2 separate regions of the Homo sapiens genome follow, and region 2 is linked to region 1. Evidence: fine-mapped QTL for protein levels in blood plasma. Region 1 holds a variant in brackets. A gene starts in the other region. All regions are shown on their reverse strands.

Region 1 (15,860 bases):
GGTTCTGTGTTATACTCACACCCATTTTGTGTTCCCTTGGCATAAATACAATGTCGCTTACCCACCTCTGCTCTTCTTCCTAGTTTCCTTTTCCATTTCTCTTTATGTCCTAAAGGACCCAGTTCTTTCTGGGAGCTCAGGCAATGCCCAGCAGATTCTAATTGAGAGTGACAAGGAGGTGACATAAAAGCTCTGGAAAGGACACTCACTTCCAAAGGATGTCTGGGGAACTGAAACGGGAACTTTGAGACCTGCTCACCTGCCAGATGAAATGTCCTTAAGAAGAGAATATCTAGAGAGGCAGGGGCTGGGGGAAAGGCACGCGGACATGTGGGGGCTGGGAGAAGCTGGGTGATATGAGGACTACTGTGACCTCTGTCACCTGTCATCTTCCTCCTGTGTGACAGACTGCTCACTAGGAAAGAGAGAGTGCTATCCTACTACCACTCAAGAGGAAACATTAGGTTACATGAAATTAGGCAGAAGTCTTTACTTTAGGACATAATGAGATTAATAAGCAAACTCCCAAAGTCAGGTGTGGGATCCAGATTTGGGGGTCCCGAAGCTGATTTTGGTGCCCTCTCCCTTTTTTAAAAAAATGAGATGAGGTCTTGCCATGTTGCCCAGGCTGGTCTTAAATTCCTGGGCTCAAATGATCCTCCCACCTCTGCCTCCCAAAGTGCTGGGATTGGTGGCCCTTTTAAGATAAGGAACACTAGGTGCAGGCGAGGTATATTCAGTGCTGTTCTACAGAAGAGGAAAGTGGGTTTCAGAGCGGTCCGGGAATATGTGATTCTGAGAACACAAATCATGAATATACCTTAGGTGTAAGTCTTTGAATGGGACCTATATGAATAAATCTTATACCTCCTCAGTTTATGGTCAGTCCACCTCTGTATACTATGTTTTCTGAACTTTTTTTTTTTTTTTTGAGACGGAGTCTCGCTCTGTCTCCCAGGCTGGAGTGCAGTGGCGCGATCTTGGCTCACTGCAAGCTCCGCCTCCCGGGTTCACGCCATTCTCCTGCCTCAGCCTCCTGAGTAGCTGGGACTACAGGCGCCTGCCACCACGCCTGGCTAATTTTTTGTATTTTATTTAGTAAAGACGGGGTTTCACTGTTAGCCAGGAAGGTCTCAATCTCCTGACCTCGTGATCCACCCGCCTCAGCCTCCCAAAGTGCTGGGATTTCAGGCGTGAGCCACCGCGCCCGGCCTCTGAACATTTTGTTTTAACCACTTTTTCTTTGTGGTGGGCGACAGTACCCAAGGGATCATGTTCAAAAAACACTTCTGGAACTCCGACCTAGTCTACACAGAAAGGCTGCAGGGTCTTTGGCGGCACGCCTGGCTTTGCTGGGCAGATGGCCGGGCACCTGCGATGGCTCCGCTTGAGTCCCTTTTTAGCACTGCTTTTCAAATCTCCTGAACGCAGTGGTATTTGGACTGGTACTTCTCTGACACATGAAGATAAAGAAAGAAACGTCACTTTCACCTGGATGTGGGCTTCAAGGGATTTATTTATTTATTTATTTATTTATTTATAGACAGTCTCATTCTGTCACCAGGCTGGAGTGCAGTGGCGTGATCTCGGCTCACTGCAATCTCTGCCTCCCGGGTTCAAGCGATTCTCCTGCCTCTGCCTCCCAAGTAGCTGGAATTACAGCTGCATGCCATCACACCCAGCTAATTTTTGTATTTTTAGTAGAGACGAGGTTTCACCATGTTGGCCAGGATGGTCTCGATCTCCTGACCTCATGATCCACCCGCCTCGGACTCCCAGGGTGATGGGATTACAGGATCGAGCCACTGCGCCCGGCTGATTTATTGTTTTTTGTTATTGTTGTTGTTTTCTGTTTTTCTTCAAGTCAGCTCTGTTGCCCAGGCTGGAGCGCAGTGGCACGATCTCGGCTCACTGCAATCTCCGCCTCCCGGGTTCAAGCTATTTTCCTGCCTCAGCCTCCCGAGTAGCTGGGACTACAAGCATGTGCCACCACACCCGGCTAATTTTTTTTTATTTTTAGTAGAGATGGGGTTTCACCGTGTAAGCCAGGATGGTCTCAATCTCCTGACCTTGTGATCCACCCACCTTGGCCTCCCAAAGTGCTGGGATTACAGGCGTGAGCCACCGCTCCCGGCTGGGTTTTTTTGCTATTGATTAATTCTGGACATGACTTAAAAAGCCGAACCATCCCAAAAACCAGACCAGGAAGTGGTACCTTTTAAAGAGAATGAGCTTGGCTGGGCGTGGTGGCTCACACCTGCAATCCCAGCACTTCGGGAGGCCAAGGTGAGAGGATCACCTGAGGTCGGGAGTTGGAGACCAGCCTGGCCAATATGGTGAAACCCCATCTCTACTAAAAATACAAAAATTAGCCGGGCGTAGTGGCAGGCACCTGTAATCCCAGCTACTCGGGAGGCTAAGGCAGGAGAATCACTTGAACCTGGGAGGCAGAGGTTGCAGTGAGCCGAGCTCACACCACTGTACTCCAGCCTGGGTGACAGAGTGAGACTCTGCTCCAAAATAAATAAAATAAAATAAAATAAAATAAAATAAAATAAAATAAAATAAAATAAAATAAAATGTAAAGTAAAGTAAAATAAAATAAAATAAAATAAATAACGAGAATGAGCCAACACCCTGAAAACCAAATCTCTGGGATGCATCTTGGCCAGAGCAGCAGAAAACTCTGCCGAAAACAACTTAGATGTTGTTCCTTTCATTTTGCTGGCTTTTAAAATACTGCTTATTTCTGATTCATGTCACACAAGTCAGTGTGTGACAATTGTCAAAGATGAACTGGGGCTGTGCCTTTAAGAGAACACTGCTAATGTGTCTCTGATTACATGAACAATACCACTCTCTGGCATGTTAACTCATCACAGTTGATTGTCAAATGCATATGCTCATGCTGAAATCTCCGTGATAACACATTTGTCAATATTTCTAGTTGTAATTTGGTTCAATAGTGATACAGGTATCAATAAGATCTGAATTAAATGTGAGATGACTGGCCTTAAATTAGAGCACAAAGGATTCAGATTAGCTCAGAAGATTTACTAAGAGGAACAATTACTAAGCACAGAAATAGGTTATTAAGGGAAGTTGTGGAATCTGTTTCTCTGGCAGTTCTTAAAATAAGACAATGAGTATCTATAGAAGAAGTTCCCAGGATCCTGACAGAAGGAAGATAGCTTTATTTAGCTGTCAAGGTCTACTCACTAAAATCATAGATACTCTGCTAAAAGTATGCGTTGAAGAGCCTTATATCCTCATATGGTTTGGCTGTGTCCCCACCCAAATCTCATTTTGAATTGTAATCCCTATAATCCCCACATAAAGAGGGAGGGACCTGGTGGGAGGTAATTGAATCATGGGGCGGGGTGGGGGAGGGTGCGGGCAGTTCCCCCATGCTGTTCTCATGATAGTGAGTGAGTTTTCATGAGATTTGACGGTTTTATAAGGCAGTTTTCCCTGCTCTTGCTAGTTCTCTCTCCTGGCACCATGTGAAGAAAGTACTTGCTTCCCCTTCACCTTCTGCCATGATTGTAAGTTTCCTGAGGCCTCCCAAGCCAGGTGGAATTGTGAGTCAATTAAACCTATTTCCTTTATAGATTATCCAGTCTCTGGCAGTTCTTTATAGTAGTGTGAGAATGGACTAATACATACCCAGGTGGCATTTTGACTCCTCAGTGTCTTACTTGCTGATGCTATTTATGATAGAAGAGTTAGAAATTCCATTTCGTGGCACGCTAGCCAGGTATGAACTGGCCGTTAGCTCATTAACTAAACTAGCAGTTAGTCATTACTAACTCTGCAGTTCTGTCTTACACACTCTGGTGATTACACCCTATAAGGTAAGGTAATTATTATTATTTCCAATAGTATAATTATTACCTACCATTTTTGAGCACTTACTATACATTAGACATTGTGCTAGTTCTTTACACATATCACATCGTTTTCCCCTCATAACAACATTTTAAGATCTGTATTATTATATCGATTTCACAGAAGTTTCAACTGAGTCTTGGAGAGGCTAAGTAACCTGCTGAAGATCATACAGCAAGATTCAGACCCAGGCCTGTCCGACTCTAAAGCCTTTGCTTTTATGTAATACAAGGTGTGGTTAATGTTTCTAAAAGCATATCAAACAGCATATAACATTGGCTCTTATATGTAGTCACATTGGGCAGCTCTACTCTTCTGTGGGTGCTCAGAAGATGCTGGGATCTCTTTTGGACTTGCCTTCATTTCCATAGGCTTTTCAGAAGTTCACAAAGAATGACATAATTTCCATCAATCCCTGAAAATTCAAATAAGGTGAGAAAGACCTTAATGAATATTGACTGTTTAATAACTTGAGGTTCTCATTAGAAAAATAAAAGTTCTGCTGCTAAATATGTTTAAAACTATAATACATTGTGACAAAAATGCTTCAATTTATTTAAGGACATGTCCTGGGGGAAAGGGAAACCTGAGGATTGTTCAAAGCCAAACCTGGTGAATTGGGTGAATAATTAATCCATTTATAAAAAATGAGGTGTGAATGATAAAATAATGATGTTGATTTTCTTACGGGACATTGTGACATAGGCATTGATTATGTAA[A/T]TCCTATATTCATATCACAATTAGCTATGGCCCCATCTCTGACATCCATCTGGGAGCCCACACAATGACCTAATAACATCTCACCTTTTCAATGACCAGTATCCAAGAAAAGACCAAAATGATGACCTAAAGAAAATTCATTATTTTAGCAGCTGGTGGACTTGGGAGTAAGACAGATTGTGGAGCTGATGATACTGCATGAAATGTTTCCCCTTGTTAGCAAGATTGTCAAAAATGTGCTCCTCTGCTATTTTCTCTATCACAGAGAAGGTGGGAGGTGAGATCTTCTTCTTGGTGTCTGTAACATACATTTTCCTTACAGAAGATGTAGGTCAGTGATAAGCATGACTTTCATAAGTATATTTTGTGCCTATCATAAATGGGAACAATTTTAGCCCCATAACAAAAGAAACAGCACAATATTCTTTTTGCTAAGAATTCTGAATTTATTATATTTAAAGTCTTGATTCCGTTTCTGATGGAGATTGGGTTGTTATGCTGGTTGTCATCCACAGCCAAATGCAGCCAAAATTGGGTTTATTTTCTCTCCTTGTGCTCCTTACAAACGCTTAGCAGGTCTGAAGTTCTCTTTGTTGACAATGGCTCCATCCTCCTGTCAGCTTTCTATGATCCTAACCTTGTTAAACCTTTTCCTCTATCATTTTGTCCAGAAAAATCACCAATTCCATGATTCCTTGTCCTACAGGATTTTCAAAGCTGTGCACTGTCTCTGTTCTCACAGGTTCAGACCAGCTTGGACCTAAGCATTGTTAGTTAGACAATGGAAATAGCCTTATTTGTCTCTTGTGTCTAGCTTTCTCGGTCAGACCATCCTGGCCAGCAGCAAACATTCTTTTCATCACTTGCCTGACAAATTTAAATCAGGATTATTCAGCAAGCATTCTGTCAGCTTATTACTCATCTCATTGTCTTGTACGCCTTATTGCAGCCATCAAACCCTTCATTGTTCCATCCTTTAACCACATCCACTTCTGAGGCATCCACATACTCTTCTGCCTGCCACTTTCCACCAAGTGATCCACTTCGTCCCTTTCCAACACTGCCCAAGATTGCCCTTTGTCATGAAGTTTCCCAAGAGTATATGTGATTTCCCAAAACTCTCTTCAACATCCTTTGATCCCTTAGGCACTGAATTGTACAATATAACCAAAGGTGGAAATTAAAAAATTACATGGAATTTTGTTTGTACTTCTACCCTCACCATAAATTGTTCAAGCTTCTTTTGTCCAAGAGTAAGGTCTCCATTTTGGCACAACACCCGAACCTTGGGTGCTCTCTACACACAGGACAGGTTTCCATCAGCTCATGCTTAGTGCAGCGTCATCTTTAAAAAGCTCCACATCTTCCTTTAAAACACAGAAGTTAAAAGATCCTTTCCTGGGCTGGGCGCGGTGGCTCACGCCTGTAATCCCAACACTTTGGGAGGCCGAGGCGGGCGGATCACGAGGTCAGGAGATCGAGACCATCCTGGCTAACATGGTGAAACCCCATCTCTACTAAAAACACAAAAAAATTAGCTGGGCGTGGTGGCAGGCGCCTGTAGTCTCAGCTACTCGGGAGGCTGAGGCAGGAGAATGGCGTGAACCCGGGAGGCGGAGCTTGCAGTGAGCTGAGACCATGCCACTGCACTCCAGCCCGGGCAACAGAGTGAGACTCCGTCTCAAAAAAAAAAAAAAAAAAGAAGATCCTTTCCTGTGCTATGTAACTGAAACTTCTCTTGCTGGATTTCATCCACCCACTCAACAACTTGATCTTATTTATAAAGACTTTCCTCTGTAAGGAAATCATTGACTCTAAATCTGAGCTTTAAAATAATTCTTTTTTCTAAATCTTATTTACATGTTGAATGGCAAAAAAAAAAAAAAAAGGATTTGAGATTTTTAAAAAGCAATTTCTGTCTGCAGACAGACAAATTGTGAAACTGTCAACCTGGAGTTAAGATGCCCGTTAAGCTATTCAATTAGAATATGTTTATTTTGTTAAATAGTTGATATTTGTTAGGTAGATTCATATATTATATAAACTTATCCCCACAATAAAGCTTGGCAATGGATTTCATTATCCTCATATTATAGACAATGAAACCAAAGCTCAACACAAGGTCACCAAGTTACAGGTGGTAGAGCAAGATTGGTGCTCTGGTGTCTAGCCATCTAAGCCCAGTGTTCTTTCTTACTCCTGAACCCACAACCTCTGGTTAGCTCCAAGCCTCCTAATGAGAAGGAGGTGAAGGACCACACTGCATGACTGACAATGCTGCTGAGGTCAACAGACCTATGGGCAATGTGGCATGTTGATCAGATATTTAATTCCCAAATGGATTTGGAATTATTTCCCGGTGTTTCATTCAGTTCCACCGTTTTGTCTATTTATGAGTTAGCATACACTTTCAGTTATCAAAGCTTTATATTTCAGCATCTGGTAGAGCTAGTTCCTCCCTCATTAGACTTTTCCCCCTCAGATTTTTCTTTGTGCTTTGAATCAACTTAGTTCACAAGACCATTATGAATTTTTTTGTCATATATCAAATTTATAGCTTAAATCATGAGAGTTGACATCTTTTTTCATTTTTGAAACAGAGTTTCGCCCTCGTTGCCCAGGCTGGAGTGCAATGGCGCGATCTCAGCTCACAGCAACCTCTGCCTCCCAGGTTCAAGTGATTCTCCTGCCTCAGCCTCCCAAGTAGCTGTGATTACAGGCATGTGCCACCAAACCCCCCCGCTAATTTTTTTGTATTTTTTTTTTAGTAGAGACAGGGTTTCACCATGTTGGTCAGGCTGGTCTCGAACTCCTGACCTCAGATGATACATCTGCCTTGGGCTCCCAAAGTGCTGGATTACAGGTGTGAACCACTGTGCCTGGCCAAGAGTTGACATCTTGATAATATTTTCCATCTTCCTAATAAAACAAATAGATTTTTCCATCTGCACTAGTGTTCTTTTGTGTTTCCCAGTACTCATGTCTTTGTGGCTTTCCCAATCATAAAGGTAAATCTTTCTATCACTTTTTGAATCGTGTTTCAGTGTTGCTTTCTTTCCCTCTCTCTTCCTTCTTTCAAACAGCACATATGGGCACACATACAAACTTCATTGACAGAGTCATCGAGGGCATTTGAAAGAAATTGAAGAAAAAGGTCCAGGCCCTTTAATGACAGGCACATGATAAGGTGTTCTTTCTCTCTGGAGGAGCATGGCAGTCTGAAACACTCCGCGATCATAGCCTTCATGATGCAGGGACTTTTGTGTTTTGTTCATTGTGGTTTTTCCAAGTGCCCAGGGCAGTACTTGGCACATCGTGGCACTTAATAAATATTTGTTGAGTGAATGAAGAAAAACCCAGTACATGCCTTCCCAAATTCTACTGAAAAGCAGTTATGTTTACCACTATACTATCGATGCCACCCCAAATCCCACTGAAACAAGGCCTTTGGTTTATATTTTCTGGCAGCTGAAACTATGGGTATTTTGTTGTAGAAAGTCTGTTGAGAAGAGAAGCAGTATATAGAGTGTTATCATCTTCCCATGTTGGTTAGACTGACCTGTTTCTCCATTAGAGTATTAGTAATAAATGCCCAATGCTTTATTGAAAACAAATAACCATATTCCATTTTTGCTTCTTAGCAGCCGAAGCCTTGAGATTCACACTTGCACAATGATGTCTTTCAAACTGCATCCTGACAGATACTTCTTGAGCTGTCATAAGGCCTATGGAGAACATCCAGTCAATGTGTAGGTTAAGTTGTCAATGAACAATTATGGTTCTTCTGAGCCATGTTTTAAAGCAAGGCATTGTGCCCCTCCAGTGCTGCAGTGTGTCCGGGCTGTGTGGGATGCAAAGTGTGTGCAGGAAATACAGTCACACTGTGGTTTTACACGGAAGCTCAGGTTGCCTCTTATGAATATGTATGATGGGGCTGGATCATGCTCTTGCCACTTGAGTTTACTTGAGCTTAACTTAACCCCCACATACCCATTTCCTGCCTATCATTTGAAGACGTTCCTTGAGGAGGTTTGAAAAAGTGAGTTGTTTCTCCAATTGTGGAGCATTTTCCTTTTTTTTTCTCTTAAAGATGATGACAAACTACACCCTGATTTATTTTTATTCACTGTGAGTCATTTGCTAGTCTTATTTTATAGATAATATTTTATACCTCTTGCTTAGAAGCAGATGGGAAAGTTCAAGGAAACACCCCCTGCAACAGAGGAAAAGTACTCGGATCTAGATTGCTATGATGGTGTCCTTGCTGGAGTCCTGATAAGCAGCCCTGTCAGGGGGAAAGGAACAGATGGCAAATGGTCTTTGCAGAGCAGCATTTGGAGTGTTTTATCTTTGTTTTAGAAATGACTGTTACTCTGCATTTACTGTGAACTCTGCGTACTCCTGAGAATGCAGAAAATAAGCTGGAAAGTCTTTCCTATTATTCGTAAAACAGGTCACTGGATGTAAAGGGTACTTGGCCAACTGGGAGCGCTCTCTCTCTCTCTCTCTCTCTCTCTCACACACACACACACACACACACACGCCAATTGTTGTTACTGGTTATCTTTATGAGAGGAAATGGGGGAGGGGAGAGGAGCTCTAGCTGCTCTGTCGCCAAAAGGCAGAGCTCCAGAAAGCCGAGTGGGGAGCCGCATGCGCTGAGAAATGCCAGCATGTGTCACTTCCCAATCTGGCGTACACACTCAACTCCTGTTTGACATACTTTACAAAGCAGACAGGGACTGGCAGGGGTGTTTCCTCTGGACAAACATTAATGAGTGAGGAAATGGGCAAATGTAGGTTGCTATGCAGTTGTTTTGCTGTTGATGTGGGAGTAAAGCCAGGCAGCACTTAGACTGGGGGAATGTTCTCATGATTTCATGGAGGTCGCTACCCTCCCATAAGAGAACTCACGCTCATGGGTTTTCCTTAAATGACAGCAGTTGGGAAGAAAATGTGCCTTCGTCTTGATGTGCTGCTCTTGTTTCTCTGTGGGCTGTCAGTCCCTTTCCGAGATCTGTTAGGTACAAAATCGGGGCTATTCTATATTACCGGTTTCTAATGAACTGCCTGTTTTGTTTGCTTTTAGTGTTAGTCATTCTTTTTCTATATAACACTCATATTTTAAAAATTTCTCAACACTGTTTTTGGCATTTAAAGTTCATGATTTAAGAGCTGATGGTTTTGCCTTGTCATTAAATGGTGAAATAACAGGGTTAAAGTGAGGTTAACAGGATTTAGAACCCCTATTTGACCAGTCTTTCTTTCGCCTGAAAAATGGTAGGGAAAAGGGAGGGAGGAAGGAAGGAAGGAAAAAAGTCTATTCAAGGAAAAATCTTAAATAGGTGAGATTATTGACTGAATTCAAGTTTATCTGAGCTAAACCTTTTTATATGCTGTTCCCATGTCATACTTTATTGATTCAACACATAGCTTTCAAGAGTAGGTTCTGTGCCAGGTATACGAGAAAAACAGCATTTTGGCTACCATTTAATAATAGACTCTTTTAATTCTCTTCCTAAAAAGTAAGTTCTTTTTTCATTGTGTATCTCATATTCTGTCTCCACTGCCACTAGAGTAACTAGAGTACCTGTGACTTTTATTAACACAATTTTGTTTCGTGAAAAGTTTATGGGTTATCTTTTCCCTATATCCAGGTATCTTTACTCTGTTCAGCTATCCTGGACCACACAACTTAATCCAAGGCCTTGGAAGCATGTTGTATTTTACAGTCTTGCAAATTTGCTTTTCAGTGAAGTCTTTGCAGCCTTCCATCCCAGGCCCAGATTGCTTCTAGACACCTCGCTCATGAACTCCAGTTGCTTGTGTACTCATCTGTCTCCAGACAGGCTGTGAGTAACTTAAGGGCAGGGCCTGTGCCTTGTTCATCTGTGAAGTGATGGCAATATAGTCCGAACTTAATAAATATTTGCAGGAAGAAATGAATATTCCCAAAGATATCTTTGTCTATATATTCCGACCTTTTGGCCTTCTATTTTATAGGATTGAACTCTAAGAGTTAGTAGGTTTGTCGGTTGAAGTCTATATATGTTTTTTAAATTTTAGTAGATGCTGCCAGATTGTTTCCCCCCCGTCCCCCCCCCAAAAAAGCAACTCTTTCTCCCATATTTCTACCAGTAATAGGTTGTATTGGTCTTTTAGATTTTTGACAGTTTAGTAGCTATAAAGTGATATTGCAATGTTTAATTTTTATTTTCCTGGCTATAAGTGAGCTTGAGTATCTTTATATATGTTCATTGGTTCAGATTTGCTGTTCCGTGAATTAAGGTTTTACGTATTTTGCCTATTTTAATACATAAAAGTTTGCACATGTTTAAATATATTTACAAGCAAAAAGTATAAAACTCCTATACCTAAAAATTTCAAGCCACTTTACCTAAAAATTTCTATGTATCCTACAGAAATACTTAGATATATAAACAAAAATAAATGCATAAGCATCTCATTAGCACATTCTTTGTAATAACAGAAAATGAAGTTTAATAAAAAGGAAGTAGTTTAGTAAGTGTTGGTGCTTCCTCACTGTAGAATTGAATGAGGAGCTAAAAAGAATGAGGTAAGGCCAGGTGCAGTGGCTCATGGCTATAATCCCAGCACTTTGGGAGGCCGAGGCGGGAGGATTGCTTGAGCCCAGGAGTTTCATTCCATCCTGGGCAACATGGCAAAATTTTATCTCTACAAAAAATACAAAAATTAGCTGGGCATGGTGGCACACACCTGTAGTCCCAGCTACTGGGGAGGCTGAGGTGGTGAGAGGATCATCTGAGCCTGGGAAGTTGAGGCTGCAATGAGCTGAGGCTCCAATGAGCTCAGTCTGGGTGACAGAGTAAGAGCCTGTCTCAAAAAAGAAAAAAAAAAAAAAAGCAGATGAGGAGGAATATGAGAAGGAAACCCAGGAGGACTGCTGGGACCAGCCTGGAGGGACCAGTACTTGGGGTCACAGAGTTGGAATGGCATCCATGGCAGAGTTGTGATCTCTCTCCAGGAGAGATAGCCTGGGCTCAGACAGGGAGATATGAAGATGAACTCATTGAAGTTTGGGGATTTGCCAGGCCAATGAGGGGCAAGGGAACTGAGATACTGAAGAGAATGGTTAAAGGGATGGCTCATGAGAGCTCCATGGGGTAGGGAAGCAGTGAAGTGAAGAGGACACTAATAGGGAAAGAATTCCAGGACTGGAATCACAAAGCGAGAGTCTTTTTGGGGTGTGGGAAGAGTAGCTAAGCGAGAAGTGGAAGAGGAGGGGATTGTGATTGGAGAGAAAAGTTCCCTATAAGACTAGACCACATTGATGAGGAGGACGGAAAGGAAAAAAGGAATTAGATGTTCAAAAATGTAAGAAAAGAAAATATGACATGGTGGCGTTTCCTGATATCTCAAGTTGAGAAAAGAAAGTTAAAAGAGAAGTGAATACTGGAAGACAGTGAAGGTTTTGTATAATTTAAAGTAAGTGGCACATAAAATAAAAATTCCAGGAGGTTCAAATGTATGTTTCATCAGTTGAGGTTACCCTAAGATAAAAGTTGAAATTATGTTAAAACTTTCTGAAACTCTCAGAAGACCTAACATCTCAAAGGGGCTAGATTCTAGAAAGAAAAAGCTTGCCAATTCCAGTTCTGGCTAGGCATTCTTAGAATACCTTAGAGTAGGTTTTAGTCTTACAGGGTTTCTGCTTTCAGAATATCAACAGGTCTTGACAAATAAAGCTTTTGAAATTTCCCTCTACTGAAATGCTCCATCTGCATTTCAGGATAGTGATGGAAATGCATCAGCTTCATTTCTGGCACTTTGATTGATGAACTTAGACTTCAATATGAAGAAAACCACTGTTCTTCTATCTAGAAAATGAAACTAAAAATAATCCCCTTGTCAGAGTGTCTGTGTTCTGTGGTTAAATTTAAGGCAACTTATTGAGTATTCATTACATGCTGGATACGAGCCCTTCCCTGACAGAGAGCACAGAGCACTACCAGAGGAGCTGGGACACACACCTACATAGACGGCCGTGATACTTCTTAAGAAGCAGCTCCCAAATCTACCCAATTAGCACAGTGCTCACTGTGGGCAAAAAGCTGAGAGCAACAATGTGGGGGCGGGCTTAGCAGGAAAGGCCTCCCAGGCATTGCATAAATGCAAGAGGTCAGAGAAAGAATTCACACCAGGCAAGGAAATTATTTATGGTATTGCAAGGGTGAAAAGATTTTTTTTCAAATCTCCTGGTATCTCTGTTACTCTGCCCTAGTGTTTGGACATATGGAGTTACCATTCCCATTAAATTATTAAAATGTGCCAGAAGACTTGGAATCCCTCAAGAGCATATTGTGAGAAGGGCTCACACACCTCCAATTATGCCTTTGGCACAAGTGCCATGTCAGATTGATGTCTGGAAAAGGATTGAGATTTGGAAAACCACATAATGATTTCTTGTATTGTTTTATCCTTCATTTTGTGCAAATCACACTTACCATGCCATTAGTAGCTTCCTCACAACTCAACAATGTTAAGAGGGACTTGCTAGCTAACTTGATCCCTAATGGAAACCTTTTACTAGGGAGGGCTGGATTTGGTTCCGGGGTCAAGGCAAACACCCTTCAATGAGCCCATGCCATGCCTTGTAACTATATTTTAAACATTTTCATTGTTCCTTCTGCAGAAATTATATCTCTTCCTCCCTTCTGCAAATTGTCCAAGCCCAAAAAGATATTTTGTGCTTATTTAGTGTTATCTCACAGTCTGGGGCAAATTATCAATAAAACAAGAAGCCAAAATCTAATAAGAAAAGGCAGGATATGAGAGGGTATGCATCTCTGCTGCATGAAGAGAAGACAGCAGCACCTCTCGTTTTCTTTTAGAGACTGTTCGGCCCCATGAGTTTATTAAAACAGAAGAAATAAGTTGAAAATGGAAAAGGGTGTGTGTGGGTGATGTGGTTACTTAGCAACAGGGAAGCTTCCGGCTGATGTTCTGAATTGAACAAAGAAAAACAGGACAGCAGGGAATAAAGGAATGGGGAAAAAATGAAAGGGAGTAAAACAGATGTGGTTGGGAGAGAGGGCTAAGAAGGGGTGAAAAATAAAAGTCAGGGAAAAAGCATGAACAGAAATGTGGTAAATACTTAGAAACAGGAAGCCTGTGAATTTTTAAAAATGGAAAAAAAAGCCACTGAAAGAAAGGTGAAAATAGCCAGAAGGGTAAGAAAACATCTGCAGTGGAAGCTGCTAGGCAAATGGAGGAATAAAATGCCCCAGCGCCATGAACTCTTAGCTTAAAACTAGGCTCTTTTGGCCAGGCGTGGTGGCTCAAGCCTGTAATCCCAGCACTGTGGGAGGCCGAGGCAGGAGGATCACTTGAAGTCAGGAGTTTGAGACCAGCCTGGCCAACGTGGTGAAACCCTGTCTCTACTAAAAATACAAAAATTAGCCGGGCATGGTGGCGGGTGCCTGCAATCCCAGCTACTCGGAAGGCTGAGGCAGGACAATCACTTGAAAACCCAGGAGGCGGAGGATGCAGTGAGCAGAGATCAAGCCACTGCACTCCAACCTGGGCGACAGTGCAAGACTTTGTCTCAAAACAAAAAAGCAAAACAAAACAGAACACTAGGCTGTTTTGTGGTGTGTGAGGTCACACCAGGGTGCACCTGAGGCAAGGGGCCCAGAACAAACCCCAGGCCACCAGTCTGTTGAGTCCACTCAGAAAATGAGCCAGTGGGCAGGGTAGCTCCAGGGATATTTTTATAACATTTTATTATAGGCATGAACCCTTAGAATGACCCTAAAATAACATGCCCCCAAAGGGAAATTCCAAAAGAATTGGATGTTAGTCAAGAAAACTTCTAATTTCATCTTTGATTCCTCCAAAGAGTTTGGTATAATGTCATAGCCCAGAGTAGGTCAATAATTACAGATAGGTATGCCTTTTCCCAGTGACTTTGTCATGCCAGTTACATGATATCTGGTAGGCATGTGTGTGCTTATTTATATTACATGGCAGGTATAGTTTGCTTCTATATTTGTCTCTTAAAAGGGCTACCATGTTTCCTAGCCCATCCTCTATATTTTTTGATCATTCACATATGCGTATAAAAAATTTTTGAGCATTTGCTCAACAGAGATACATTTTTATTCATGAATTATATACATGTATTATCTAATAATACATGGGTCATTAGAATATGATGTACATATTAATAATGAGATACAGATAACATTAAATATATTTTTAAAATTTTAATTGGTTAAGGATTTTATTTTATTAATGGAGCTTTCACCTCCCCAACTTCACTTTCATTTCCCCACACAACCCTCACCCAAAAGTACCTACCAGATATAATACAAGAGCATATGGTAGGGGCTCATAAAGCGTTTGCAGTAAACAGGAGAGGAATAGCATTTTCCCAGTCCCTGCTCTGAGCCATCGCATTATATTTTACAGGGATGCGTGAAGTTACATACTTATATTTCACTCCCATAGAGATTATATGCTATTTTTGTTTTTCTGCATATAAAATAGGACTGAGTTTTTAAGTTATTCCTCTTTGAAAAAGTTATCTGGTGGGGCACGGTGGCCTATGCCTGTAGTTCCAGCACTTTGGGAGGCTGGGTGGGAGGCTCACTTGAGGCTAAGAGTTCAAAAAGCTTTTATCTATAATGTTTGATTTCTAATTAAGTATGGTTGAATAACAACACACTTCAAATCCCAGTAAAATGATAGAACATGAATCCTTATGAAAGGGTTGGTATATCAGTTATTTATTACTGCATAAAGACTACCTCAAAACTTAGTGGCTTAAAATAACGATTTATTTGCTCAAAAAAGACAAAAAGAAAGAAAAAATAAGCAAACAAACAAATAAATAAAATAAAGAAAGAACTACAGAAATAGTAATCCCCCCCACCAAAAGACTGATTTATTTGTTTTGCTAGGTTCTCTTGAGGTCTTATTCAGAAGTCACAAATCGTCACTTCTGCAGCATTCTATTGGTCAAAGCAAGTTATAAGGACAGCTTGAATTTAAGGGGTGGTAAAATGAACTCTAGCTCTTTTTTTTTTTTTTTTTTTTGAGACAGAGTCTCTCTTTGTCGCCCAGGCTGGAGTGCAATGGAGCCATCTCGGCTCACTGCAAGCTCCGCCTCCCAGGTTCATGCCATTCTCCTGCCTCAGCCTCCCGAGTAGCTGGGACTACAGGCGCCCGCCACCAAGCCCGGCTTATTTTTTGTATTTTTAGTAGTGACG
Region 2 (15,860 bases), not on the chromosome of region 1:
GCTCTCTCTTATTTCAGTAAAATTCTTGCAATAAATGTAACTTCTAAAGTCAAACATTTGAGATCTAGAACAGTGGTTCTTAACTCTTTTTGAATCACGGACCCCTTTGAAAATCAAGTGAATGTAATGAATGTTCATCCAGGAAAAAAATGAACATACACACAAAAATTGGCATTTGTTTATTTATTTATTTTACAGACAGCATCTTACTATGTTGCACAGGCTGGTCTTGAATTCCTGGGCTCAAGAGATCTGCCCACCTCAGCCTCCCAAAGTGCTGGGATTACAGGCATGAGCCACTGCCAAATTTAGCATTTCAACTGAGGGTTTCACAGATACCCTGAAGCTTCTCCCTGCCCTCGCTTTCAGAAAACTCATAGATCCCCAAACTAAAGTAACTGGTCAAGGAGGTCAAGTATTAAAATTAAAATAATGGCTTTGCCTCTGAAAAGTATGACTTATTTGGCTCCTTAACTCTAGTTGACAGTTATTTATCATATCTAACAACACAGTGTAGGATGCTATAAAGAAAATCAGAATAATAATATAATATACATTATAAAGGCTACCCTCAAGGGCTTTAAGGGAGGTAGAAAAATGACTACGGAATATAAAACAGATACTGACCTGTCACTTTTTAATAAACACAATATGAAATATCAAATTATCCTTTCCTGTTCCTCTTTTCTAAGGGAAAACTCAGTAACTTATGGTGTCTCTAGCACATGAGGATCATATGTTCTTCTACTGAATCAGTATCTTTAGCAGTTACTATCTTGGGGTGGAAGGTTGAAGCTGTTATCTGAAACCTATCTACCATGGCAGGTGGGGAGAGCAGAAACCATGAGCATCATTTCTCTAATTTAGCATGGAGTGTGGAGTGCCTGCATTAGAATCAGCTGGAGTGTTTATAAAGCATGCAGATTCCTGATCCCCAGCTCATATCTAAAAATAAAAATATCTATGGATAGGGCCAGGAAATCTGCATTTTTATAATGTCATCAAGTGATTCTCAGGTACATTAAAGTTTGAGAAATGCCTATTGTTGGTTTCCTTTGACAATTCTAAGTTCCAGTAACCTACTTGCTGTCACCCACAGTTTCACAATGGAGGAGCGCTCATGGGGGCCCTATATCACCTGTATTCAGGGCCTATGTGCCAACAATAATGACAGAACCTACTGGGAACTTCTGAGTGGAGGCGAACCACTGAGCCAAGGTAAGGGAGAGACATGCCAAAAAGACCCATGCTAAAAATGCCCAAATGGAGAGGGGTGTGAGCCTCTGTGGGGATTGGGCCAAGGGGTTAGTAGAGATGACATCCATTATTTGGTGATTTAGTGGCCAAATCATTTGACCCAGTTCTCTTTCTTCTTCCTTTTCAGGAGCTGGTAGTTACGTTGTCCGCAATGGAGAAAACTTGGAGGTTCGCTGGAGCAAATACTAATAAGCCCAAACTTTCCTCAGCTGCATAAAATCCATTTGCAGTGGAGTTCCATGTTTATTGTCCTTATGCCTTCTTCTTCATTTATCCCAGTACGAGCAGGAGAGTTAATAACCTCCCCTTCTCTCTCTACATGTTCAATAAAAGTTGTTGAAAGATTAACAACTATACAAAAAGAGCATGTTCTAATTAGTTCATTCTGAAAGGATTTTAAAATGTATTAGAGGAAAGTCCACCTAAGGAAAAACTGAAGTGAAAAGAAATGAGACCACATGTCTAATAAGCGGGGTTCTACTCAAGGTTCTCCTACTAACTATCTCAGTGGCATTGGGCAACTGGGTAAAATGGGGATAAGGTTCTAGGTCTAATGTTGCAGCAACAACCAATGAGATCAAGCAGAAAGTCTGTGAAAGACTGAGCTCTCTGAGGCCCAGATGCAAGAGAGGAGCCCATTGGTCACACTGATTTCATACAGGTAGTGGGTAAAAAAAACATGTTGCTCAGAAGAAAGGGGGAAACGTGAGGCATATACATAAAAGGTCTGCCCGTAGTTTGAGAAACAATCTCATCCCCTGCCTCCAGATGTCTCCCTTGGGTCCCACTTATTCTTCTCTTACATTTATTTTCCCTTTATTTCCCCATAAAATCACCCCAATATTCATGTCATCAAAATACATATGCAAAAAAGTCACTTATCATGTTCATTTCCACAGAATTCACTTTTTTCCTTTTTTATTTTTCTAATCAATTTTTGTCATGCTAAGAAGTCACGTCTTAAAGGAAAAAAGTTGAATCACATCAAGGCAGCATGAGCTTGTACTTATACTGAGTACCTGGGCTACATGCAGTACAGTCAGAAACTAGAAGGACACTTAAGATACCAAAGGACAAAAGGTACTTTATGTAAAGTGTAAAGTAACCCATTTAAAGTAATTTCCTGCAAATAAAAACCACAATGAGACACCATGCCACACCAGTCACAATGGCTACTATTAAAAAGTCAGAAAATAACAGATGCTAGTGAGGTTATGGAGAAAAAGAAACACATACACTGTTGGTAGGAGTGTAAATTAGTTCAACCACTGGGGAAAGCAGTGTGGAGATTGCTCAAAGAGCTAAAAACAGAACTACCATTCAACCCAGCAATCTCATTACTGGGTATATACCCAAAGGACTATAAATCATTCTACATCTAAATCTAATATAAACCGCGTGTATGTGTATTGCAGCACTATTCACAATAGCAAAAATATGGAATCAACCTAAATGTCCATCAATGATAGACTTTTAAAGAAAACACAGTACATATACACTATGGAATACTATGCAGCCATAAAAAATGAGATCATATCCTTTGCAGGAACATGGATGGAGCCAGAGGCCATTATCCTTAGCAAACTAACACAGGAAACTGCATATTCTCACTTATAAGTGGGAACTAAATGATGAGAACACATGGACACATAGAGGGGAACAACACACACTGGGGCCTATGAGAGGGTGGAGGGTGGCGAGGAGGGCGAAGATCAGGAAAAATAACGAATGGATACTAGGCTTAATGCCTGGGTGATGAAATAATCTGTAAAACAAACCCCCATGTCATGGGTTTACCTACACAACAAACCTGCACATGTATACCTGAACTTAAAGTTTAAAATAAAGTAATTTTTAAAAGAAAAATGCCTTCAGGTAGAATTAGTTGAATTATTATTTATTTTATTATTTTTTTTAGACAGAGTTTCGCTCTTGTTGCCCAGGCTGGAGTGCAATGGTGTGATCTCGGCTCATCGCAACCTCCGCCTCCTGGGTTCAAGTGATTCTCCTGCCTTGGCCTCCTGAGTAGCTGGGATTACAGGCATGCACCACCATGCCCAGCTAATTTTGTATTTTTAGTAGAGGTGGGGTTTCTCCATGTTGGCCAGGCTGGTCTCGAACTCTTAACCTCAGGTGATCCACCCACCTTGGCCTCCTAAAGCACTGGGATTACAGGCGTGAGCCACCACGCCCAGCCAGGTGAATTATTTTAACAATGTCTTCCTCATTTCTCCTGTGTTTTCTTCACAATCATCCTAGCTTCCTCTCCTTCACCAGTGACACTGCTTCACAGTCAGAGATTGAACCCTCTTCCAACATACTGCTTTCTGCTATTGATACTCGATGCTCAGGTTCAACTCTGCCCTGGTCTTCATTAACTGGATGTAACACATGACCCTCATGAGTGGACAGAAATGGATTCTATCCCTTGGGTCTGTGTCTCATCTTTAAAGCTAAGTTAGAAAATATATACACCTACTGTGTACCCACAAAAATTAAAAATATAATAACAATAATAATAATAATAATAATAAAGCTAAATTAGAGAAGCTGGGAGCCATGTTACCCTTCCAGGATCCCTGGTGCTGTTAATCGTCAGATCTGTTTGTAGCCTATACAAGCTATGTGAAATTGAAGGATACTGGTTTAAGGTGAGAAATATGCAAAATGTCAGAATTGCATACTAGCAATTAGCACTACTAGCATTTATTTCTAACAGACAGAGCCTAGTTTCTCCCAGCCAGAGGTCTTAAAGTATAATGTAGGCCGGACGCAGTGGCTCACGCCTGTAATCCCAGCACATTGGGAGGCTGAGGCAGGTGGATCACTAGGTCAGGAGATCGAGACTATCCTGGCCAACATGGTGAAACCCCGTCTCTACTAAAAATGCAAAAATTAGCAAGGTGTGGTGGCATGCGCCTGTAGTGCCAACTACTCGGGAGGCTAAGGCAGGAGAATCGCTTGAATCTGGGAGGCGGAGGCTGCAGTGAGCCGAGAATGCGCCACTGCACTCCAGCCTGGGAAACAGAGCTAGACTCTGTCTCAAAAAAAAAAAAAGTATAATGTAGTAAGTAACATTGCTGTCTGATATAAATGCCTTTAATCTCAGAAGTAGACATGAAATAACACTCCCTTAGGGTTCCACTAACATCGGCCCTTGAAACCTAGTTCTGAGGACAGGCGTGGTGGCTCATGCCTGTAATCCCAGTACTTTGGGAGGCCAAGGCAGGCAGATAACTGAGGTTAAGAGTTTGAGACCAGCCTGGCCAACATGGCGAAACCCCACCTCTACTAAAAATACAAAAATTAGCTGGGCATATTGGCAGGCAATTGTAATCCCAGCTACTCAGGAGGCTGAGGCAGGAGAATCACTTGAACCCGGGAGGCAGAGGTTGCAGTGAGCTGAGATCACACCATTGTACCCCAGCCTGGGCAACACAGCCAGACTCCATCTCAGAAAAACATAAAAATAAAAATAAAAATAAGAAACCTAATTGGCCACACTTGCCTTACAAGAAGCTCCTACAGCTTGAGACTATTACAGAACCTGAACTGAGTCTGAAGAGAGAAACTTCCTTTTGCTGCCACAGCAAAGAATAATCACCACAAATAAACCTCACTTATGTCCAGAGAGAGTCTAGGTGCTTTGATACCAAAATATTAGGCACAGGAGAAACAAGGAAATAAATGAACACATCATCCCAGTCAATAGTTAACCAAGGACTGTCAAAATATCCCTGTTAAGAAATGTATGGCCTGTGTGGTTCCTGTTCTGGGAATTATTTACTAACTGCAACAATTGTGTCACGATCAATCTTGCAGCAGCCCTGGTTGTAAATGGTAATTTATAATACAAGGAAGTGAGTGGTTAAAGAGCTGGCAGGCCAAGGGTGTGTGGATCATCTCAGGACGATCAGGAGCAGGCTCTGGAATGCAAAGTCAGCACCATACTGTACTCATAATCCTGTATTAGATTCTTATTGTTGCTGTAACAGATTACCACTAATTTTGTTATTTAAGACAAATTTATCATCTCACAGTTCTGGAAGTCAGAGTCTCACTGGGCTAAAATCAAGGTGTCGAAGGAGCTGTGTTCCTTCTAGAGGTGGCAGCAGTAAACCAAGTTCTTTCCCTACTTTGTATGGGTCACAAAGAAGGAACATGCAATTGGACAAAAGCAATTGGGTCGTATTCACTGGCCAGGGAATGGAGAAGGGGAGCTCTCGCTCTAAAGGCGCATTCTCCTTAAGCAATGGGAAGCAGGGAAATTTTCAAGAGTTAGACATGGGGCAGGGAGGTATGTAAGCAGGCCGAGGGTGGAGTTCCAAACACGCAGGCGCAGTCCCCAGACATACTTCTTCATACCTCGCATGTACACAAAATGGCAGCGATTTTCTTTTAAGGGAGAGGAATCTAGTATTATAATGATATGTTAATGATCTAAAAGTAACTAGGGGTTGCCGGTTCTGGTTTGCACCGGTCTGGTGCAGGTCTTATCTTCCTCTGGTATTTGGCAAGGGATCATGAAGCTCCTGAAGCATCCTGGGCCATCTGGAGCTCTTTAAGCAGTGGCATCTATAGATAAAAAGGCTAAGGGGACATCCCATTACTGGGTATATACCCAAAGGACTATAAATCATGCTGCTATAAAGACACATGCACACATATGTTTATTGTGGCACTATTCACAATAGCAAAGACTTGGAACCAACCCAAGTGTCCAACAATGATAGACTGGATTAAGAAAATGTGGCACATATACACCATGGAATACTATGCAGCCATAAAAAATGATGAGTTCATGTCCTTTGTAGGCACATGGATGAAATTGGAAATCATCATTCTCAGTAAACTATTGCAAGGACAAAAAACCAAACACCGCATGTTCTCACTCATAGATGGGAATTGAACAATGAGAACACATGGACACAGGAAGGGGAACATCACACTCTGGGGACTGTTGTGGGGTGGGGGGATGGGGGAGGGATAGCATTAGGAGATATACCTAATGCTAAATGATGAGTTAACGGGTGCAGCACGCCAGCATGGCACATGTATACACATGTAACTAACCTGCACATTGTGCACATGTACCCTAAAACTTAAAGTATAATTAAAAAAAAAAGAAAAAAAAGGAACAGGGACAATCTTAAAAAAAAAAAAAAGGCTAAGGGAAAACAACAGTTTAAGAAAATAAGAAGCCCTCCCAGCTATTTCCGTAGGGCTCCCCTAGTAACAGAGCTTGTGAAGAAGAATCCATTTCCTTGCCTTTTCCAGCTTCTGGAGGCTGCCCACGTTGCATGGCTCATGGCCCCTGTCCACCTACAAAGCCAGCAATTGCATCATTCTGACTTCTGCCTCTAACATCACATTTGCTTTTCTGATTCTAACGCTCTTGCCTTCCTCTGCCACTAACAAGGACCTCTGTGATGACATTGAGCCCACCCAGATGATCCAAGCTAACCTTCCTCTCTTAAAGTCAGCTCATTAGCCACCTTAATTCCATGTGCATCTTTAATTCTTCCTGGCCATATAACCCACGTAACATGTTCACAAGTTCCAGGGATTAGGGCATGGGCATTTGGCGGTGTGTGGGCAGTGCCATTATTCTGCCTCCTACTCCTTCACACAGCATGCAAGGCTGTCCACCAAGTAGATGCCAACTGTCTTTCCAGCCTCATCTTCCACCATGTACCATGTATTGGATATATATTGCTGCATAACAAGTGACTTTAAAACTTAGGGGCCTAAGACAACATTTATTATCCCACAGTTTCTGTGGGTCAGGAGTCCAGGGAGGGTTTACATGGGTCCTCTGGCTTAGGAGGGTCTCTCCCAGGGCTGCAATCAAGATGTCAGCTGGGGCTGCCTTCATCTCAAAGCTCACTGGGGAAGGGTTCTTTTCTCCCTGAATATCGGCTGGAGGCTACTCTCAGGGGCCATATGTGGGCTTCTCCATAAGGCAGCTCACACTTAGCAGCTGCCTTCATGAGAGCAGGAAGGGCAAGAGAGAGAAGGCAAGCAAGAGGGAAATCGGTCTTTTGCAACCACATCCCATCACCTTTGCTGCATTATATTCATTATAATAGAATGTGGCCCCAGGCCAGCCCACACTCTAGGGAAGAGGACTACACAAGGCATGAATACCGGGAGGTGAAAACACAGGGCCATGTTAGAAGTTGTCCAGCACACCCCAGTATGTACCCTGTGCTCTCATCTCACAAAACTCACCCATGTTTCCCAAGGGGGAAAAAATGCTTTATTACCCATGTCTTACATTTGCTCATTAATTCACTCATTCAAAAAGTATTTTATTTCTACTGTGAGCTAGGTAGTGTTGTAAGGGCTAAGGATAGAGCAGTGAGCCAAAGAGACAAAGCCCCTCCCTCGTGGAGCAGACATTCTAGTAGGGAGATAAACAAACGATAAACAACCACACACTTAGTGCGACAGAGGGCAATGAGTTATAGCAGGCGAGGGGCATGAGGGGTGTCAGTGGAGGTGAGGATGTAGGATCTTATGTAGGGTGGCCTGGGAAGGCGTCTCTAAAAGCTTACCTCTGAGCAGAGACATGAAGGATGTGAGGAAGCCACCATGAGGCTATTTAAAAGAAGAGGGTCCTGGGCTGAGGGGGACATCATGTGCAAAGGTAGCTGATGTGTTCAAGGGGCACAAGAAGTTCTGTGTGATGGGAGCGGTGTGAGCAAAGGGGAAAACGCCTGGAGCTGAGGTCAGAAAGGAAACCAGGAGCCAGATCTTCTAAGGTCTTATAGGTCATGAAAAGGGCTTTGACTTTTATGCTAAGATGGGCGCCACTGGAGAATATCCCCTTAAAATGAGCTACTTTACATGCAGGAAAAAAACAAACAAAACTCCTTTCTTTATAATTTCAACATACCATTTTCAGTTCTCCCTTATAAAGAAGTATAATTTGCATTATAATGTAGCTACACATCTGAAATATGTATTCTTAATGGATCTCACATTTTCTAATTACTTACTTTAAAAGATAATATCTGAAAGCTTTGGGTGTTTGAGATGGCTTTTATCTCCAGATAAGGAAAGAGAAATCAAACAAAACCATTTCTGGGAAACCGAGGTCCATTTCTTGCCTAAAGTCAAACAACTTCAAAGAGTCTAGGCTAGAATCCAGGTCCAGGTAGACATCATTAATTTCACAAAGCCAGATGTCACCTGGCAGATCCCTGCCTGAGAGCCTAAAAGGACATGTTGTAAAGCAGGTGTCTAGGATCATAAAATGAGCTGATGCCTATGAATGGCCTAAATCCCAGTGAAGTAGTTACTAAAAAGCAGCCTGGTAACTGATTGGATACAATAAGGGCTAGAAGAGGTCTTGTTGATACTAGCACATTATCCAAACTTCCTGATGTCTGACCCAGGCCTTTGGTAAAGGACATTTTCTCAACATTGCCTTCACTGCATACCCAGCCCCAGGTTTCTCATATGACTGTGCAACCTAGAAGTCACCTTCAGACACCTTGGAGGGTCTATAGTCGGTAAACTTAGATAAGCAAATGAAAATTTACTTACTTGTATCAGGAAAGGAGAGGTCAGCACAGGGGCAGTTAGGAGAGGCTGGGTTGGGGACAGATTATTTAACAAAGGGAAGCACATATAAGAGAAGGTAAAGAAATATTCCACTTGCAAATCGCGGTACCTGTGGATGAGAGACATAGACGAGAGAGTGAGATGGCCTGGTTTGCCCTCTACCTCCTGAGCCTTCTCTGGGCTACAGCTGGGACTAGTACCCAGACCCAGAGTTCATGCTGTGAGTATGATGTTTTTCCAAGGAGGTCAGGGAAGCAGTTGCCCTGGGGAAGGGGCTGTGACCTCTGACACTGAGTGGTTGAAAATAGCAATCACTATAGGAATTCCAAAATGGGTAAGTCTGAGTGTGATTGTGTGCTGTTCATCCTTCCTGACTTAATAGCATAAGTTCTTTGAGAGACAAGTCTATATGTTTTTTATTAAGAGAGATGGGGCCAGGTGCAGTGGCTCACACCTGTAATCCCAGCACTTTGGGAGACTGAAGCAGGAGGATTGCTTGAGCCCAAGAGTTCAAGACCAGCCTGGGCAACATGGTGAGACTCCATCTCTACAAAAAAAATAAATAAATAAAAATAAAAAATTAGCTGGGCGCAGTGGCATGCACCTGTGGTCCCAGCTACTCAGAAAGCTGAGGTAGGAGAATCGCTTGAGCCCAGGAGGTCGAGGCTGCAGTGAGCTATAATCACACCACTGCACTCCAGCCTAGATGACACAGCAGCACCCTGTCTCAAAAAATCAATAAATAAAAATAATAGAGATGGAAGTACTACTGCAGGAATAATGGTTGATGGTACAAAGACAGACACTCAGTGGCTATTGTGACCAGACACCACTACATACTAGTGAGAGATTTTGGTACTCACTGAGGATAAATTATATCCCAAATCTTTAATACTCTTCATGAAAGAGTAAGGAAAAAAATGAATGCAAGGAAATCAGTGATTTCCAGGAAAGTGATAGAAACTATGAGAAATGTCATGAGCCATATTGCTTGAAGTTACTAAATTTAAAAATCACTTTCTTAAGGATATGGATTATTTGAGAAGATGTAGAAACTAATTGTCCTCAAAAGTAAAATCTCACCATTTTCTCCATTTCTCTTTAGTGACTTAGGACACTAATGCTAATCAAGTGTTCTCCTAAAAGGCATCAAAGATGGCCAGGCGAGGTGGCTCACGCCTGTAATCCCAGCACTTTGGGAGGCCAAGAAGGGTGGATTACCTGAGGTCAGAAATTCGAGACTACCCTGGCCAACATGGTGAAACCCCATCTCTACTAAAAATACAAAAATTAGCCTGGCGTGGTGGTGCACACCTGTAATCCCAGCTACTCAGGAAGCTGAGGCAGGAGAATCACTTGAACCTGGGAGGCAGAGTTTGCAGTGAGCCGAGATCGTGCCATTGCACTCTAGCCTGGGCAACAAGAGTAACACTGTCTCAAAAAAAAAAGAAAGAAAGAAAAAGCATCAAAGACACGGGGATAATGTTTTTGAGAAGGAATGAGGGTTAGAAGGTGAGTAAATGGCTTTCCTCTTCTCAGCCGTTCCCTCAGCACAGGAGCCCTTGGTCAATGGAATACAAGTACTCATGGAGAACTCGGTGACTTCATCAGCCTACCCAAACCCCAGCATCCTGATTGCCATGAATCTGGCCGGAGCCTACAACTTGAAGGCCCAGAAGCTCCTGACTTACCAGCTCATGTCCAGCGACAACAACGGTGAGACATCTGAGCCGCTCGCACTCTCCCTGAATCTCACACATCACATACCACCTCCAGATTCCAACTCAGCGTCCTTCCCACCCCAATGCTGCCTCTGACTGTAAATAAACTACCCAAACACCTTTCCTTACATACCTGGAAGGTACCTGGAAAGAAACATGTGTGAAGTCAGAGCATTCATGGAGGAGGTCAGTAAAGCAGGGAGAGCTCTGGACTAGACGTCGAAAGAGCAGCCTTCTGGTTCTGGCTCTGCCACGTCATAACTCTGGGATCTGAGACAAGTCACTGGATACTGCTCAGCCTCACCTTGCAGATGATTGTAGTAACAATAACCCTACTACTACTAATAGCAATGATAATAATAATAAAATCTCTGTTCTGCCTATCTCCCAGGAGCTGCCTGCAGGCTCAAGTTAGATAAAGTTTAAATTATTTTGCAACTGTAAATTTCTGTATATAAATCTATATGAGTATTTTGCTGCTTTTCTAATCAAATACCAGGGATTCTCAAATACCAAATACTAGAGTCATCAAGTTACACAGAGGCCACTAGATTAAATATTCCCTTACGTATTCTTCCATATTTTTTTCTTTGGAAAGACAGATCAAAGAACTGCTCATATTATTAAAAAGTCAAAATGCTCTAGATAAAAAGCAGAGAACTCATCACTGGCTCCTGGAGAGCTGTCCCCTGAGGATGTCTCTGTCTAACCGTTGTGTTCTCTTCTCTGCAGATCTAACCATTGGGCAGCTCGGCCTCACCATCATGGCCCTCACCTCCTCCTGCCGAGACCCTGGGGATAAAGTATCCATTCTACAAAGACAAATGGAGAACTGGGCACCTTCCAGTAAGACCTGACTGGAAGGGAGAAAAGAGTCAGGCATATGGTTTTACCTAAGAATTTTAAACCCAGAAAGGAAAAGGGTGGGGGTGGAGAGAAAGGCAAGTTAGGGAAGAGACAATGTATCCTTCACTCTGGTCCTTCTGATAATCCAGACCAGAAAGATTCATTTCCAATCCAAAATGAACTAGAAAAGGTCATGATCCCAAGGACACAAGCTTGTCCAGCCATCACCTGTCTAAAGACACAGAGTCATCCCTTTTATTCTTTGCAGATGCCTGATGACATTCTTTTGAAAAACACTGAAGTTGCTCTTTGCCTATGCTGTGTCTCTCTTTGGGGGCAGGTTTTCTAGCAATTTCCTTTTCAAAGGCTTGGCTTTTCCTTCTTTGCAAATGTCCTCATCGTGGTGACTGTGAGTCTGATGAAGGTTCTCTATCCCCTTCGGAGGCCCCAACGCTGAAGCATCAGCCTTCTATGGGCCCAGTCTAGCGATCTTGGCACTGTGCCAGAAGAACTCTGAGGCGACCTTGCCGATAGCCGTCCGCTTTGCCAAGACCCTGCTGGCCAACTCCTCTCCCTTCAATGTAGGTGAGTAGGTCACCACTACCCCGAGCTGGGAACATCAGAGGCATCGTGAACTGAATGGTGGAGCTGGCAGGGAAGTGACAAAGGAGAGCGTCCCATGGAGGAGGAGCTAAGGATGTGAACGTGCCTGTGGATGGGAGATATTTACCAGATGTTTGTTGGGCAGGTGAATTGAGGAGTAAGTGAAGGAAGAGGGGGTAGTATTATGTAGAAACAAGGACAATTGATAATACTTGATATGTCTGGCAGCTACAGAATCTCCGCTGGGAACAATAGTAATGCCATTCAAGTCAGAAGTTCTTCCCAAATTAAATATGAATGTCTTGCTTCAGTTCTCCTCTGCATCCTCTCTTTAATCACTACTGATGCTCCCACACTCCATTCTTTTCGATGCTTCTCCTCATTACATCCAAATATCCTCTCTCCATTAAACAGCTACTCTCGGAACCCTAACTCGTGATATTTCCCTTCATGGCAACTCGGGGACCACCTTGCGTCTTTGTTCTGCAAGCATATGGCTGCTTGTGAATAGAAGCTTTTCCCTCTACAACATCATGTCCTCCTTCTGTCCCCTTCTATGGATAATGATCCTTCTCTGTGGGGGCCACTGTCACAGCCCGCATTCATGATCACCTTTTCTCCTCTGCCAACTCTCTAAGCAATAGTATTATCTCAGGTTTTCACTCCCTTATGCATGCCCCATCAGCAACCTCTCTTGTTTCAGTTTCTGTCAGACAAACAGGTGAACCACTGCTCTAGGATCCTCCCTGGGGGTTAAGAACAGACTGGTCTCCCTTTCACATCTGGGACCTCACACATTTCTGGGGCATCTCTGCCTCCAAAAATTTGGACTTATTTACTTCTGGTTGTCAGTAACACTAGCACCCTTAACGAAGTTATGCAACTTTCAAATGGAGATTTGGCCCTGCTGCTTACTTAATTTTTCTGAGCCTCCATTTTTTGTCTCTTAAATGGAGATGATTACAGGTACTGTTTCACAGGTTGTTCTGAGGAGCAAATAAAATCATGGAGCCAGAATATAATAAGCACACAATAAATGTTAGCTGTTCATATTGCTGTGATGGTGACTATGGTGATCTTATACCCTCTGTCATTCACAGACACAGGAGCAATGGCAACCTTGGCTCTGACCTGTATGTACAACAAGATCCCTGTAGGTTCAGAGGAAGGTTACAGATCCCTGTTTGGTCAGGTACTAAAGGATATTGTGGAGAAAATCAGCATGAAGATCAAAGATAATGGCATCATTGGAGACATCTACAGTACTGGCCTCGCCATGCAGGTAAACACGTGCTGGATGCTCTTGGTTGGGTTCCTGCCAATAAGCCTGGATTGCAGAATCAAGAGGCCAGGCTTCTACTAACATCTCTGTGAAAGTCCAGCTAGTATGACCTGAGATATATTCTTTGTGGTGCCTGGGCCTCAGTTTCTCTACTGGTAAAATGCAGGTAAGTGTTAATTCCTCCCTACCTCCTATGTAAAGTGTGAAAACAAATCTATATGAACTTGTTTCTCTTTCTTGGGAAAAAAAATGAAACAAATAAATCAAGAAATATATTAATTTATTATTAATAATGATCAGTTTATTTGTAATAGTTACAGACTATTACAATTTTGATGTATAAATAATAAGAATATTAAAGCAGGCCCTCTAAAAATATACAATTTTCTGATGCAATCTTACCAGCCAAGTGTTCTTTTTCAGTGTTTTACCTTGATCTAAAAATAGCAAGTTTATACTCAAAATGATTAAGGAAAATAACCTAAAGTTGACCCAGCCTCACAAAAACCCATAGTAAATGGTAAAGCAGATCTATCTGTCAGCCAAGTCCATATTCAATTCTGTGCTTTCACAGCATGCATTCCCAGGCTTGGATTCTGTAAGATGTGTTTGGTATTCATAGTTCCAAATCCAACAACCCACCCTACCCTAGTTGATTAGGGCAGCAGCCTCCATAGAAGACAGATGCACCAATGGTGGTGGGCAGAAATAACCAACTAGAATCAGAAACTAGCAACCATCTGTGGCTGAATCCTCTAATCCCAACTAAGAAGTTTGAGCTCCAGTGTCTCAAAATGTCCTATGGGGATTAATAGGACCAGGGACTCTTCAACTCAGAAAGCCCACTAAAGGGAGAATCATGGAATGGTGATGCCAGCCCTAAACCTAACATAGTTGCGGACTATTAGAAAGAAATTGTCTCCTGGGGAAAACAATGGAGACTAGTATTGAGATTTCATACATTAAAAATTAGAAAAGGATATAAGCAGCCTAAGAATTGGTTCATGTTAAACATAAGAGCAAAAAAAAAAAAATTTCCACTTCAATGGACCACATATAGAAGTGACTAATAAAAATAGAGTTCATTTCTATGTCACAGTCAAGGAGACTTTGTCATAGAACAAAACCCTGTTTTTTCCATGGCTGAATTTTACAAGAACATTCCCAGTGCTCTGGTCTAGAAGCTTTTTGGAAAGAAAAAGGCAGTCTGGAAGAGATATAAAAGATGGTTTGGGGATTTTTTTTTTTTATGTGTGACTCTCTAAAAATAACCTTGCTTCAATTTATCACCAGACAGTGAAGTGTTTACTTTTGCTAACTTGGTTTGTGAATTCTGTTTGGATTTTATCACCTGCCAAGTACACTTTGATAAGCTGTACCTGGGAATTAGAGCTTTTCCTATCAAAAGGCAGGACCCTGTCTACATCCAAATACCACAGGCCATGTGGATTTCTTGTCAGAATACATAATCTCTCCCTACCCTTTTTACTGCCTCTATCTGGAACTTATTTAGGCATCCTGAAATCTGGAATCAATAGGTGTCTAATATATAATATTTTCCTAATCTAAAATATTCTGATATAGAAAATCAAAGGGCTCTGGAACTATCACAATTTAGGTTTGACTCCCACACCTGCCACCATCTCAGACAAATATTGAATTTCCCCAGATTTTATTTTCCCCATAATAATAAGGTTGCAATTAGGTTAAATAAAATGTGGTATGCAAAAAAATGCATGCATAATGTAATGCTTAACAATTGTTCAAGATCTGTCTCAGCAGAGCAGTGATGCTAGTAAAGTTCCTTTTCAGCCTTTGTTCACCTTCTTCCAAGATGTCAGTACACTTCCAGTGGCCCAGGCCACACTCTTCCCTACCCAAAGACGCTCATGAGGCATTTCCTCTGTTCCAGAACTTCTCATCTTTCTTCCATGAATATCCTATTGCTTTCAAGTTTCCTCTGATAGGCGCTTATCTTGAAAAGGGATCTGATAGGCCAGGCGTGATGGCTCACACCTGTAATCCCAGCACTTTGGGAGGACGAGGCGGGCAGATCACTTGGGGTCAGGAGTTCAAGACCAGCCTGGCCAATATGGTGAAACCCCATCTCTACTAAAAATACAAAAATTAGCCTGGTGTGCTGGCAGGCACCTATAATCCCAGCTGCTCAGGAGGCTGAGGCAGGAGAATCACTTGAACCCGGGAGACGGAGGTTGCAGTGAGCCAAGATTGCACCAATGCACTCCAGCCTGGGCATCACAGCGAGACTCCATCTCAAAAAAAAAAAAAAAAAAGAAAGAAAGAAAAGAAAAAGAGAACTGATAAACTTCTTGATGGAAAGTTATTAATGACGTCTAACCACTTAATGTGTTATCCTCTCTAGAGTGTTGGCATTGGTGATGTGTAATCCCAATGAATATACCTTGCTTAGTGAAATTTGGGAGGTGCATATGACAAGTGGACAAGATATTGTTGCTGAGGAGCACCCACCTGATGGCCCTTAAAGCAACTGCCTTGTAAAGTGGCCTCTGTCCAGAGCCATGCTTCATAGATGCTGAGGTTCAGTGATGGTTGTCCCTGTC

Alleles and levels. Alleles are on the strand shown, and positions count from the first base shown. The strength of an association depends on the size of the effect and on how common the allele is.
In carriers of allele A in region 1, the plasma level of the protein whose gene starts at base 8,922 in region 2 tends to be lower than with T alone (moderate association).

Evidence for each region. PIP is the posterior inclusion probability: the model's chance that the variant is causal. Protein levels are from antibody-based Olink assays in UK Biobank. Linkage for the fine-mapping came from a reference panel and not from the study's own genotypes, which makes the PIPs less certain.
Region 2: it holds the start of CBLIF, and the variant in region 1 is fine-mapped to the plasma level of the CBLIF protein (UK Biobank, PIP above 0.99).

What each region holds. Positions count from the first base shown.
Region 1 is chr6:118,702,823-118,718,682 of GRCh38, reverse strand. It overlaps a transcript of CEP85L not described here. Among named protein-coding and RNA genes, the nearest start is that of CEP85L, 59 kb to the right of the region's middle. RefSeq lists silencers at 8,556-8,605, 12,503-12,797. The variant A/T (reference allele first, on the strand shown) is at 4,609.
Region 2 is chr11:59,838,561-59,854,420 of GRCh38, reverse strand. CBLIF (cobalamin binding intrinsic factor) reads left to right here and starts at 8,922. Exons shown (of 9, transcript NM_005142.3): 1 at 8,922-9,046; 2 at 10,366-10,542; 3 at 11,280-11,393; 4 at 11,838-11,978; 5 at 13,097-13,278. The coding sequence starts at 8,968. It overlaps TCN1 (transcobalamin 1), which reads left to right. Exons shown (of 9, transcript NM_001062.4): 8 at 1,100-1,218; 9 at 1,385-1,613. The coding sequence ends at 1,446.